Linked DNA regions of Homo sapiens: region 1 is linked to region 2. The links come from fine-mapping of genetic effects on gene expression. Tissue or cell type: aorta. Region 2 holds a variant in brackets; the other region holds the start of a gene. All regions are shown on one strand. Distances are from middle to middle.

The links. PIP is the estimated chance that this variant, and not a neighbour inherited with it, causes the effect.
Region 1: HENMT1 starts here. The variant in region 2 is fine-mapped to the expression of HENMT1 in aorta (GTEx, PIP 0.99).

The regions. Positions count from the first base shown.
Region 1 is chr1:108,657,619-108,663,857 of GRCh38, reverse strand. HENMT1 (HEN methyltransferase 1) reads left to right here and starts at 2,765. Exons shown (of 8, transcript NM_001102592.2): 1 at 2,765-2,895; 2 at 3,896-3,994. The coding sequence starts at 3,974. RefSeq lists enhancers at 1,868-2,456, 2,457-3,046 and a silencer at 2,632-2,801.
Region 2 is chr1:108,706,823-108,714,605 of GRCh38, reverse strand. FNDC7 (fibronectin type III domain containing 7) reads right to left here and starts at 1,698. Exons shown (of 13, transcript NM_001144937.3): 1 at 1,610-1,698; 2 at 1,077-1,095. The coding sequence starts at 1,672. The variant C/G (reference allele first, on the strand shown) is at 3,395.

The sequences.
Region 1 (6,239 bases), 50 kb after region 2:
TGGCCAGATAATGTTTTTTTTCTTTGTAGAGACAGGTCTCGCTATGTTGCCCAGGCTGGTTTTGAACTCCTAGCCTCAAGCCATCCTCCTGCCTCAGCCTCCCAAACTGCTGGGATTACAGTCATGAGCCACCTCACTCAGCCCAGGATAACTCTTGATTACCTATTGTGTGCCAGACACCTACACCTGCTGGACTGTAAAAGCTATGAAAGGATCTTTATCTGTCTTTTAAATTCAAACAAGTACTTGATCCATAATAAATACTCTATACACATTTACCAAATAAGTAATCATTTCTCATTTTTTAACTTAAAAAAACCCCCTAACACTCAGAGAGGATGCAACTTCCAAAGGTTATGCAGTAATAGTAAAATCTGGATTTAAGGCCTATTTGACTTAAAATCCACTCTAAAAGACGTTACATGGTCTATAACTCAGTAGGACTTACCTTGTGTACGAAGGAAAGATGAGTTATAATGACAAAATGAGATGACAAGGCTAAGCTATTAGCTGTGGGAAGGAACAGATGGTAGATGACAGCTTGAAGAAGTCAAAATTTGGTGATTGTCCAAGTGTGGGAAGGACAAAAATGGACAGAGCCAAGGATGATTTTTCAGACTCTAATAAGAGTAGGAGGCCAGGAGAATGATGAAATAGGCAAATTTGGAGAGGGAATGGACATGAGGAGCTCAAGTTCATAAATGGGCTAACCAGCAGGGGAGGCAAAAACCCTAGATCCAGGAATGCTGTATAGATGATAGCTTTTATGTTTTCCTTAAAATTTTTGAAACTGTGGTAAATATACATAAAACCACTTTAACAATTTTTAAGTTCAGTGGCATTCAGTGCAACCATCCTATCTACAAAACTTTTCCATCACCCATTAAACAACTCTCAATTCCCTCCTCCTCTCAGCCCGTAGCAACCACCATTCTACTTTGTCTCTATGAATTTGGCTACTCTAGGTACCTGATATAAATTGAATCATGCAGTATTTGTCCTTCCGTGACTGATTATATATCACTCAGCATATCATCATCAAGATTCATCCATGTGGCAGCAAATGTCAGAATTTCACTCCTTTTAAAGGTTGATTTTCCTGAAACTCTGATTGGAAAAATAAAGGCTGAATATTCCATTGTATGTATATCACATTTTGTTTATTCATCCTTTAATGGACATTTGGGTTGTTTCCACATTTTGGCTACTGTGAATAATGCTGTTACGAACTTTGGTGTACAAATACCTGTTTGAATTCCTGCTTTGAGTATATACCCAGAAGTGAATTTATTATTTAAACATTCTATTTTAAATTACATCCTGTAGTAAGGTGTACACTCCTTTAATGAAGTCTGCTAAAACTAGTTTCCCCAAGTCAACAGGAACCTCTCAAACTGTAATGTGAAATTATCACTGAGTGTTTTTTCTTTTTAGACATGGTCTGGTTCTGTCGCCCAGACTGGAGTGCAGTGGTGCAATCATAGCTCACTGCAGGCTCAGATTCCTGGGGTCAAGTGATCCTCCGGCCTCAGCCTCCCAAACAGTTGGGACCACAGGCAGGCACCACCATGCCCAGCTAATTTCTTTTTTTTTTTGGTAGAGACGGGGTCTCACACTCCGGGGCTCAAGTGATCCCCCAAAGTGCTGGGATTACAGGCGGAAGCCACGGTGCCGGGCCTTATGATTGAATTTTTGAAGCTTATTGTTAGTTATGTACTTCTTTACCTATGACACTAGACTCCCCAAAATGCCAAAAACAAGATTGGTGTAATTTATCATTGTGGTACCCTTAAGCTGTCAGCATAGTGCTTTGCATACAGCAGGCGTTAAATGTTTGAAAATACAGTTCCAATATATCATTTGTGGCATATTAATAGGCTATTAATTCAGTAGCAAAAACACCAGCTTTTGCATCTTTCAAAATATAAGTCAATCTTTTTTCCCTAAAGAAGGCAGCTTCGTCCCTCCCCTCACCCCCCTAATACTCTTCCATCATATACAGGAAAGAAAGTACTTATATATATTAAGTGGAGTCTCCAGAGGGAAGGATGGCAGGATACAATAACTTTTCCAAGAGATCAACAGTTCTATCCACAACACTCGGGGAAAACTATTTCGGGGGTCGGGTGGCGGTGGAGAGGGGGCGTTGGGAGCGGAAAGAACGTTTTTCTGAACGCAGGTGTCACTGGGCCAACTTCACCCAGCCTACATTCCTTTAAGGCCCCCGTGGACTGCTCTGGGATGAAAGCGGAGGCTGACTGGGACTCCAGCCGCCGGCCGCCTCGCGTGGAGCCTTGCTGCTCCTCTTGCCGCCTTCCGCTGGCCAGGACCGTTTTTAGGCCTTTGCCACGCCTCGGGAGCGCCACGAACTCAACAGCCGCCCAAGCCGCCTTCCGGCTCGCGGTCTGCGGACGCGCTCGGAGTTGGGGGCCTTCGCCAACAGCTGCCGTACCGTGCCGCGTCGCAGCCGCACGCTAGCGGGGTCAACGGCGCGGCAGGCGCAGGGGTCCTCGCCAAGGTTCGGAAGAGGACCTTGAAAATGGCTTCTGGGCATGCGCCACAGCGGCCGTTACGAGACGCAAAACCGACGCCTTGGAACTGAGAGCCTAGAGGGACGGAGCTCGGCGCACCATGAGGCTCCCGGGGCCCAAGGCCGACCGTGAGAGCGCACGAGGTTGGCGAGCCCCGCGGGGAGGCCGAGGCGCGGGTGCGGGCGCCGGCGTAGCCGCGGCGGTAGCGTCACGCAGCGAGGCCGTGCGTGCGCGGGCGTCAGGGCGGCGCTGAGTTGAGGACGCTGGCGGCTCCGCGACGAGCTTTGTTTTTTCGGTTGGGCATGCTGCTTACCGCAGGATGATGGAAGCGACGGCCCGTACAAAGACAGAAGCGTTGGTTTCAGTGAGCAGGGTTTCTTTTTCTTTTTCTTTTTTTTTTTTTGAGACGGAGTCTCGCTCTGTCGCCCAGGCTGGAGTGCAGTGGCGGGATCTCGGCTCACTGCAAGCTCCGCCTCCCGGGTTCATGCCATTCTCCTGCCTCAGCCTCCCAAGTAGCTGGGACTACAGGCGCCCGCCACTACGCCCGGCTAATTTTTTGTATTTTTAGTAGAGACGGGGTTTCACCGTTTTAGCCGGGATGGTCTCGATCTCCTGACCTCGTGATCCGCCCGCCTCGGCCTCCCAAAGTGCTGGGATTACAGGCGTGAGCCACCGCGCCCGGCCAGGGTTTCTTAATACAAGTTGGTGACTAACATGTTGCCTAGATTCCAGATTAAAGTCTAGTTGTTGGAGACACATGTGCAATAGAGAACTAAAATTTAAATTCAAGTTCGTGAGTGAATTGAATAGATGTTGGAGCATCTCTAGTTTATCAAGGACACTTTTTTTCCCCCTCGAAATTTCATTTTGACGATGTGTGGAAAAATTTTTGAAAAAATTTGAAGTTGAGGGTCTTAGCAATGAAATGGGCAGAACTCCTAAGATTGCTCCGTTTGTATCTAGTTGAACTATTCATGATAGTAAAGGGAAAGGATGGCTGTTTTCGCTCTTAGTAGGGTTTGACGTAGTGAAAAGTTACGCTTTCTGAGCCTGTTTGCGAATGTCTGAAAAAATACTGGATACATTCTGTGGATTAAATGGTAGTCCACATTTAATCCACAGATTGGCTATTGTGAATAATGCTATGAACTTCGGTGTATAAATATCTGTTCGAGTCCTGCTTTCGTGTTTTTTTTTTTTTTTTTGAGTACTCAGAGGTGAATTCATTATTTACTTTTAAGCGTTCTATTTAAATTATATACTGTAGTAAGGAGTAAGAAAGAGGCTTTCGTTCTTCCCTTCTGAACTAGGCAGCTATTTCTTTCAGGTATCGCTTTACAAAAACGGTTTTGTATTTATTACAGCTGAGTCAGTGCTGATTCTCTCAAATAGAGCTTGAAGGATAAATCTTCATTTTTGTTTCAACAAAACTTCGAAACAAAATGGAAGAAAATAATCTACAGGTAATGCCACCCTTCTTAGCTGCGTCTTTGACTCTTAAGAATTATCACCTGGATGTATTGTGAGATAATTGCAAACAAAATTGATCACATTTAGGTCCTAGCATTTCCCGGGGTGTTGGTTGAGGTAAACAAGGGTATACATAGATGAAAGAGTCACATTTGGTGTATGTAAGTAAAATAAATGTTTTTACTTTTATCACTAGGTGTTAAAGTAGCAAAATCTATTTTAAAAACACTCTAAGTAGTGTTCCCCAATGTGGTTGTGTATATGGATCACCTGGGGATTTTGTTAAGTTGCAGATTCTGTTTAAGGAGGTCTAGGGTGAGGCCCAAGCTTTTGTGTTTCTAAAGTTTCTAGGTGAAGATGCCACTGGTTTGGAAACCACATTGGGAGTACCTAGGGTGTAGCTCCCTGCTGTCCAGTAGCTACACATGGCAAGTGGGCACTTGAAATGTGGCTAGTGGAATTGAGGAACCGAACTTTAATTTTTTTTTTTTTTAAGACAGGGTCTTGCTCTGTTGCCCAGGCTGGAATGCACTTGCCCAGTCACGGTTAACTGCAACGCTGACCACCTGGGCTCATAACTTCATTTTTAATTTTAAGTTTAAAATTGGATATTTGATTACATTATTGGAAAAAAGTATGTTTGGAATAACTTGGGTATGTGCATGTATATTTTAAATGTAAAGTTTTTAAATCCAATACAGACAAGTATTTCTGATGAAGGTTTTGGAACTGAGACGCAGAAGTACAAAATATGTAGCACACTGGATTTTGAAGACTTAATGTGAAAAACAAGAATCTAAAATCTCTTATATTGATTTTATGTAAAAATTATATTTTCGATATATTGGTTTAAATATTCTAATTCCGATTATAATTCCAATTCTTGGGCTACAAGAAAGTTGCCTACTTGTATTTTATCTATTGGACAGTGCTACATCAGATATCAAATACCCTTTGGACTACTTTTATAATACTGCTGTATAGGAATAGTAACAGCTATTACAGATTAATCTTATAAATTCTGTTTTTTCTTGGGGTCATGTTAAAGAAAAAATTAGTCTGACTTTATTGAGGACTGTTGCAATAAGAACATTGCAAAGATGAAGAATTTGACCAGATAGGGTGATCAGATATCAGGGGTAGAAGATTCTGTCTAAACTGACTTAGAAGTATTCTTATTAAAACTGGGCTAGGCAGCCCAAAGATAGGATTGGGGCCAGGGTTTGAGGTCTATTCAAGAAGATGGCTCAGAGGAACCTGACTGAAGTTTGGTCAGTGAGAGAGTCTTTTGCTGGTGTGTTGGAATGTTCCTACAGATGCCCAACTACTCAGGAGGCCGAGGCCAGAGGATTGCTTGAGCCCAGGAATTTTAAACCAGCCTGGGCGACATAGTGAGATCCTCTCTCTCTCTTAAAAAGAGTGTTGGCTGGGTGTGGTGGCTTACACCTGTAATCCCAGCACTTTGGGAGGCCAAGGCGGGTGGATCACGAGGTCAGGAGTTCAAGAAGAGCCTGGCCAACATGGTGAAACCCGTCACTACTAAATACAAAAATTAGCCAGGCATGGTGGCGCATGCCTGTAATGTAATCCCAGCTACTCGGGAGGCTGAGGCAGGAGAATTGCTTGAATTGAGGGAGGCGGAGGTTGCAGTGAGCTGAGATCGCGCCACTGCACTCCAGCCTGGGTGACAGAGCAAGACTCCGTCTTGGGGGGAAAAAAAAAATATATATATATATATGTGTGTGTGTGTGTGTGTATATATGTGTGTGTGTGTGTGTGTGTGTGTACATATATATGTGTGTGTGTGTGTATATATATGTGTGTGTGTGTAAGTGTGTGTACATATATGTGTGTGTGTGTGTGTATATATATGTGTGTGTGTATATATATATAGTCAGTCATTATAAATATTTTCCAGCCTCCTGCCTACTTGGACCACAGGCTTTGGCGACTCACTCCACAAAAGGTCCCTTATGGTTAGGAGTCATCTAATTGTTTTCATTGAATACATTCATTGGTAATGTTCCCTTCAGCTGAAACTAAGCTATAGGGAGCATACAGCTAGATTCTCTCTTGTTAAAAGGCATGAGAGGATGCTTACATGAACTGTGGAGGAAATGCAGTGCTACCTAATGATTTTAGGACAAAGGGTATGTGAAGGCCAGTGTGTTTTTCAAAGTGATTGGGGGAAATAAAGTTTTTTTTTTTTTGCCCCTTATTTAATTTCTGAAGTCATGC
Region 2 (7,783 bases):
TGCCACTTTGTATATGGCCAAGCAGACCCTCCTATAGTTTCCTGGCTAATCCTAAAGATCTCTCAAGAATAAGACAAGTAAATAAGAATAAAGCAAGAGGTGGGGTGTTGCTATGTTGCCCAGGCTGGTCTTGAAATCCTGGGCTCAAGCAATCCTCCCATCTTGGCTTCCCAAAGTGCTGAGATTATAGGCGTGAGCCTTGGTACCTGGCCAGGAAATAGAAATTTTTAAAAACTTACTGTATATGCATGAATTTTATGAAATTTCATGGCTCAGACATGTATCTGTATCAAATTTTTTAACTGTCTTAATTTCACTTCCTTTTCTGTGGTGTAGACAAAATAATAAATAAAAATTTTTCTAATTTATGTTGAATCACTATGAGAATTTATCGGTGATATGGTTGATATTATGTGGTTCCTACAGATAAGTTAACCCTCCTAAAAATAAATTTCCATTCCAGGTACTTAGATTTCTAGCACAAATGAGCTAGGAGGGGCCTCTAGATAAATTATTTTTGCCTTCGGTTATCTACTCAAGAAAGATGGAGATCAACTATTTTTAAAAGAGGGTCCCCTTTCAGCCCTGAGTGACTATTGTCTATATTTCAAATATGCAATATTAGAAGTATAAAGTTCTTTTTAAAGTAGGGAATATTGACAATTTAATCAAATATAACATTTCTCATTTTCCCTCTAATTCCCCGGAAGATAAACAAGAACATTTGTATAAATTAGACTCTGTACAATATCTTAACTGGAATGATGATCATTGTAATATTTCACACATGGCTAACCGTATATGAGAAAATGCATGCCTACATGGCTCTGTACATTATAGTCCTCAGCAAGAACACTTTATGAAGATTTGTCTTTCGAGTTCAATCCATTTATTTGTCTTACCAGTTATTGTCTCCCCAGGACCCAATAGAGTGCTTAGCACCCAGTGTGAGTGCTCAGAAAATATTGAATTTTTTTTTCTCATATAGCCTTTAGATTTCAGGGTAGCCCGTGAATTAACAATGGAAATTAAAATCAAATACGAGAAGGAAAAACTTGCAGGTCAGAAAATTGTACCTGATTTTGCTGAAGCAACCTGAAAAGGAAAGTTTGGAAAATTAGAACCACACAGAAAAACACAACTTGAACAAACGTAAAACATGAATAAAAGCGGTAATAAATTAATCACAACATTTTTACATCTAACGTGAGCAGTCTTTCAATCCATACAAGTATTTCTCCACACAAATCATTTCCCAGCACCCAAATCTACCACAAAACAACTCTAAATAGAATTTAGAGGCTGGAGGCAGATCCCATTACTATTTCATTTTTTTCCCCTTTGAATCTGCCTATTGAACTAAGTCAGTAGCTGCTGACAGATTTTTCAGAAATCTTTGTTCTTAAAATATAATGATAATCTTGTTTTCTTTCTCTAGTATATGGCATTAAATTTCAAACACGCAAACATATACAACCTCGGTACAAACCAAAGTATTCTGATTTCTATCTCCCTATTCCCCAACTCCTCAAAAAAAAAAGGAGAGAAAAATAATGTGTCTTTCTTTTTTCCCCTAAATAGTTGTGGGTAGTTGGAATGATGAACTCACCATTTTAAGACAGATAAGAATGAATCCAATCAAAGGCAAACATGTCTCTCGTCCACCAGCCATCCTGTTGGACATAGTACTCACATGGCACAAAACAAAGCAATCCGGGTCCTCTTTGGCCCCCAGGAGTATAACACCGTTGGTCGCTGGGATGTAGGGCTGTGATGCTGGGAAGAGACCCTAGGAAGTAGCTCCTCCCCTTCAGTGTGGAGCTGACCTGTAACCAGGGGCACTTGGAGACCGGCAGGGACAGGTATTGCAAAGACTGAAAAGAAGAAGAGAGTTGGAGAAAGCCACGGCAAGCGGGCCAAAAAGCTACTGTAACCTTGGTTTCAAAGCAACCTTCTTTTTAAAACAATTTCTGTCTAAATAAAAATTTTAGAAAGCTGCACAGAAAGTTGTTGATGTGGTAGAATAATTATTTTGAACTCGGGGATGCTGACCAGTTTTATTTTTCTTTTTCACCTTTATTTGTTGTTGTTCTTTTAGTTCAAAGTAAGTGATTGGTCCTACTGTCAGGAAGAATTTGTTGCAAAACTTCAACATGGAATATGAAAGGGCAGGAGCATGTCCCTGTACTGAGAAAGATAGTGAGAGGTCCCTGGTGAGCACATTAAATTTATCCATCCCCCGTACCACCCTGCAGTTCCAGTACCTTTTTTTTTTTTTCATTTTTTTAGAGACAGGGTCTTGCTATTTTGCCAAGCAGCCTCCAACTCCTGGGCTCAAGCAATCCTCCCACCTCTGCCTCCTGAGTAGCTGAGACTACAGGCATGCACCACTGCGCCTGGCTAGTTCCTTTTATTTCCGGAGCTGTCTTCCTAGTTCACACTCTTAATAATAATTAGCATTTAATTTAAGAATTACAATGTATAATTTTAACAATGAACAGATACATAAATGAATAATAAACATAATTAATTGGCTTATCTGAAATCACACAAGAATTAAATGATCAAACTAGAGTTAAAACGCATCAGTCTGATTTCTACTTTCAACCAAGATAGGATTACAAAAAAGGGAAAAGAACTGCATTTACCGTCCCTGACTTTAAGATTTACCATAAAGCTAAAATAAAATAGAGACCGGGTGGTATTGGCATGAAGATAGATAAATAGATCAATGGGACAGAGAGTCCAAAAATAAACCCACGCATATATAGATAATTGATTTTCAACAAAGATACAAGGCAATCCAAAGGAGAAAGAATAGACTTTTCAACAGATGGTGCTGGAACAACTGGATAACCATATGCAGAAAACATAAACTTTGGTTCATACCTCACACCACATTAAAAAATGAACTCAAAATGGATCATAGATCTAAATGTAGCACCTGAAACTATAAAATGTCCAGAAAAAAAAACACAAGAGAATATCTTTGTGACTTTGGGTTAGGCAAAGATTTCTTATATACAACACTAAAAGTATAATCCATTTTTAAAATTTGATAAATTTGACTTCATTAAAATGAAGAATATCTGCACTATTAAGGGAATGAAAAGATAAGCCACAGACTGCGGGAAAATATATATCTTATAAAGGACTTGTATTCTGTGTGTGTGTATTCTCAAAACCCAGTAATAGGAAAACAACTCAATACAAAATGGGCAAAAGATATGAACAAACACTTTACAAAAGAAGACATACTCGTGGAAAATAAAGGCATGGAAAAAATCCTCAGCATCACTAGTCATTAGCAGAATGCAGAAAAGGTTTTTTTTTTTTTTTTTGGAGACGGGGTCTCATTCTGTCATCCAACCTGGAATGTAGTGGCGCAATCACA[C/G]CTCACTGCAGTCTTGACCTCCCAGGCTCTAATGATCCTCCCACTTCAGCCTCCTGAGTAGCTGGGACCACAGGTGTGCAGCACTACACCTGGCTAATTTTTGTATTATTTGTAGAGATGGGGTTTCACCATGTTGCCCAGGCTGGTCTCAAACTCCTGGGCTCAAGCCATCTGCCCACCTTGGCCTCCCAAAGTGCTGGGATTATAAGCGTGAGCCATTGCGCTGGGCCCACAGAATGCAAATTAAAACCACAGTGAGATACATACTTATTGGATGTCTAAAATTAGAAGCTGGTCATTGTGGCTGTGCCTGTAATCCCAGCACTTTGAGAGACCAAAGCAACAGGATCACTTGGGGTCAGGAGTTTTGAGAACAGCCTAGGCAACATCGTAGGACCCTGTCTGTACAAAAAATTTTTTAAAATTAGCTGGATGTGGTGACATGCGCCTGTAGTGCCAGCTACTTGGGAGGCTGAGGCGGGAGGATCACTTGAACTCAGGAGGTCAAGCCTGCAGTGAGCCATGATCGCACCACTGCACTCCAGCCTGAGCAATAGAATGAGACCCTGTCTCAAATAATAAATAAATAAATAAATAAATAATAAAATTAGAAAGACTGAGTAAACTAAGTGTTGGCAAGGATGTGGAACAATCAGAAATCTCATACCTGGTAAGAATGAAAAATGGTACGATCATTTTGGAAAATAATTTGGCTGTTTCTTAAAAAGTTAAACACATGCCTCACCATTTCACTCCTAGGTATTGACTCAAAAAAAATGAAAGCATATGTCCATACAAAAACATACAGGAATATTCACAGTAGCATTATTTTTAACAATCCTCAAACTATAAGCAAACCAAATGTCTGTCAGCCAAAATAAGTAATAAACAAATGAAATTTTTCCCAGCAAAAAAAGGAACACACAAAAACATGGATGAATCTCAAAAAAAGTCAGACCTAAAAAAAGAATACAGATGGTTTGAACTAATCATATAAATTTCTAGAAAATGCAAACTACTCTTAAAAACAGAAAGCAAATCAGTGGCTGCCTGGGGATGGAGAATGGCAGGAAGGAGGGATTACAAAAGTGCAAGAGGAAACTCTTGGGGGTGAAGAACATGTTCATTATGTGAACTGTGGTGGTGAATTTATGAGTGTATACATATGTCAAAATGTATTGAGTTTATGTCTTAAATATGTGCAATTTATTAAATGCTACTTATACCTAAATAAAGGTGTTTTCAAAAATCAGTCTAACTCCAAACCCTAAGCTCCTTCCACTAAACCACTCTGCCTTATGAGCTGACTACTATGAATTTAAGGCGTTTCAATTTGTGCACCCATCAAATATATGTTGACATATTGAGGACCTAATGAAGACCAGGAACTATTCAGGACATGGAAGATACAAACAAATCAGAACCCTGTCCTCTTGGAGCATGCACTCTAGCAAAGGAAGGCCAAACCAAGCAGCTAAAGTAATAAAATATGTTGAGTGCTGCTAAATTTTATGAAGAAAAAGTGGAGTGATAGGAGAGAATACAGCTGTTAGGGAAGACCTCTCTGGCAACCAGATGCTTGAGCACAGGCCTAAGGGAAGTGAAGGAGTGCATCCTTTGGAAACTTAGGAAAAGAACATCCAGGCAGAAGGAAGTGGAAGTGCAAAAGCCCTGAGGAGGGAGCAGCTTGGTTAGAACAGCCTGTGCTCTTACGCCCCCAGCAGCAGGGAGTGTTGGTGGTTGACAGCTCCCGCTCAGTCTCTTGCAGACTTGCCCTTGGCTCATGAGAGCTGCCTGGCTCAAAGTCATACCTGCTCCCTGGGCCACCTACATCCAGTGATTGGTGGATAAAGGAATGTTAGTGCTCCTGGCCCGGATTCAGGACAACTCTGGAGGGGAGATCTGGATGGTACACCATGGTGTCCACCAGGGCAACGGAGGCACCTAGGGTGCAACATTTAAAGAACACCCACTCTCCAGTTCGCTGAAGCCCAGAGTTCCAGAAGGGGGCAGCACAAACCCCTCAAGTGGGTCATTGGGAGTGATGGCAAACAGGACCAGTCATGTTCAGTCACTTGTGTGCACAGAGTAGACAGAGAGTTGTATCTAACTTGGATTGGAGTATTACTAGACAAGGGTGATGGAGACCGCAGTAAGGGAGTTAAGAGTGTTTTCAAGGATGTGATTTATAATATTGTACAGTGGAAACTAAGCTGGGTAAGCAAGGAACTGTGGCTTGTAATACCTCACTGCAATGGAGGCTAAAGGGGCTGCAATGGAATGAAAAGTTGGCAGGAGCAATAGAATGGAGGACCCAAGGGAGTTAAAGAATTGTTGGAGAGGATCTTAGAGAAAGTAAGCAGGAAATATAGGAGTTGGTGATTAGAGAATGGGATGCTTGATTGAAATGGAAACCGTGGAGAAGTGCCAGTTATTGATGATGGCCAGGTCTATGATGTAACCATTGGAACTGGCAGCTGAGGTCAGATGGAGGAAAAAAATCATTGGAGGTCAGGAGGTCAAAAAATTGAGAGGTCTGAGTATTGGAAAGATTGTTCAATGGATATTGGAATCACTAAGAATTATGGCAAGAGTGGTGAAAGAGGTATTGAGCCTCTATTAAACTCTATAATTATTAAAATATTAGGGGAGTATCTATTGGGTATGGATGATATAGACAACTGAGGGACAGTAGATGGTGTAATCTGATGACGTGTTTTATAGGACCTAGGGGATTCAGGAAAGAGAGAAAAACAATGGTCTGGAAGTACAATGATTTTAAAGAAATGAGTTAGGAAAGATAATTATTGTGTTAGCAACCGTCTCTGGCTAATGTCAACTTCTTGGTTGTCAAAATAGGTAATGAGTGTTATCGCTGAACTGTTCCATTGGGAAACAATGCAAATAAAGCGGTTGCTTTTGTAATATGAATTTACTTTAAAGCTTTGAATGACTAAATTTACCAGCTGTCTGAAATTCTCGCTTCAGGAATGAGATTCTGCAAAGCAGTGAATGCATGAATTTTGATACTGAAGGGAATGGAGCTAAGACAACCAAGAGGGGAAATAGCTACAAGAGTAAGTCTATTTACACATTATTAGTGTACTAATAAGGTAATATCAGCAAATTTAAGATTAGTAAATAATGCAAAGGCCAGGAGAGGGACTGAAAATAAAAGATAAAGATAAGAGTCTGGAACGGAAGAGGGAGAAAATGTGAGGATGCTCCACACAAGAATCATCCACTTTCCAGACCACACATGCCTGTGTTGATGCTTCCTGACACCCACCCTCCTTCACTAAGCTCATGCGCACTACTTTAGCTTATGTTACTTGGTGTGCAATTCCAGATCTCAGAACTGTGATTAGTCGGGATTAGGTTTTGCTGAGAGTGGACAGAAAACCTATAACAGTGGCTTAACCAGAAGTTTCTTCCTGATATAAAATAGTAGAGGCAAAGCCTCCAGGAGTGGCGTGGCAATTCTATTCCACGGAGTCTTGAGAGACCCAGGCTCCTTTTTCCTCTTTAGTCTGCCATCCCTAGGAGGAGGCCCTCCTTCTTGGTCCAAGATAAAGTTCCAGCTATCACATTAAAGTTCTAAGCAGCAGAATTCAGTGAGAGGAGATAAAAGAGACTAACGATACATTCCAGTAATCTCTATTGGGGAACAATTGGCAGTCTACCACACAAATGAATGAATAAATAAATGTGATCTGGTGCATAGGTAGATCAGCCAAGGGCAGAATTTAAGACATGTAACGGAAAGATATAGAGAGAGGTGGCCAGGCGCATTGGTTCATGCCCATAATCCCAACACTTTGGGAGGCCAAGGCAGGTGGATCACTTGAGCCTAGGCGTTTGAGAGCAGCCTGGGCAACATGGAGAGACCCCATCTCTACCAAAAATATAAAAAAGTCTCCAGGTGGGGTGGCGTGTGCCTGTAGCCCCAGCTACTCAGCAGGCTGAGGTGGGAGGAGTGCTTGAGCCCAGGGAGGTCAAGGCTGCAGTAAATATGAATATGAAATGAATATGGAGATGAAGTAGGAACTTCAGAAACTAGTAAAGATTTGAAGTGGCCATTGTAGGGGATATCAAAAAGAAATATTTAGGGATATAGAAGGAATGTAGAGTAGGATTAACTCCAGGAAAACATTGGAAACTGCAAGATTTTTAGTGGCCCTAATCCATAATGTAGTCTTCCACCATGCCCTTACATCCCCCTTCTGCCAAAGGCAGACCATTTCCACCAAAAAAAAAAAAAAAAGAGGAATCATATAAAACTTCCTATTTGGGCCCAGCATGGTGTCTCATGCCCATAATCCCAGCATGTTGGGAGGCCAAGGTGGGAGGGTTACTTGAGCCCAAGAGTTCCAGACCAGCCTGGGCAAT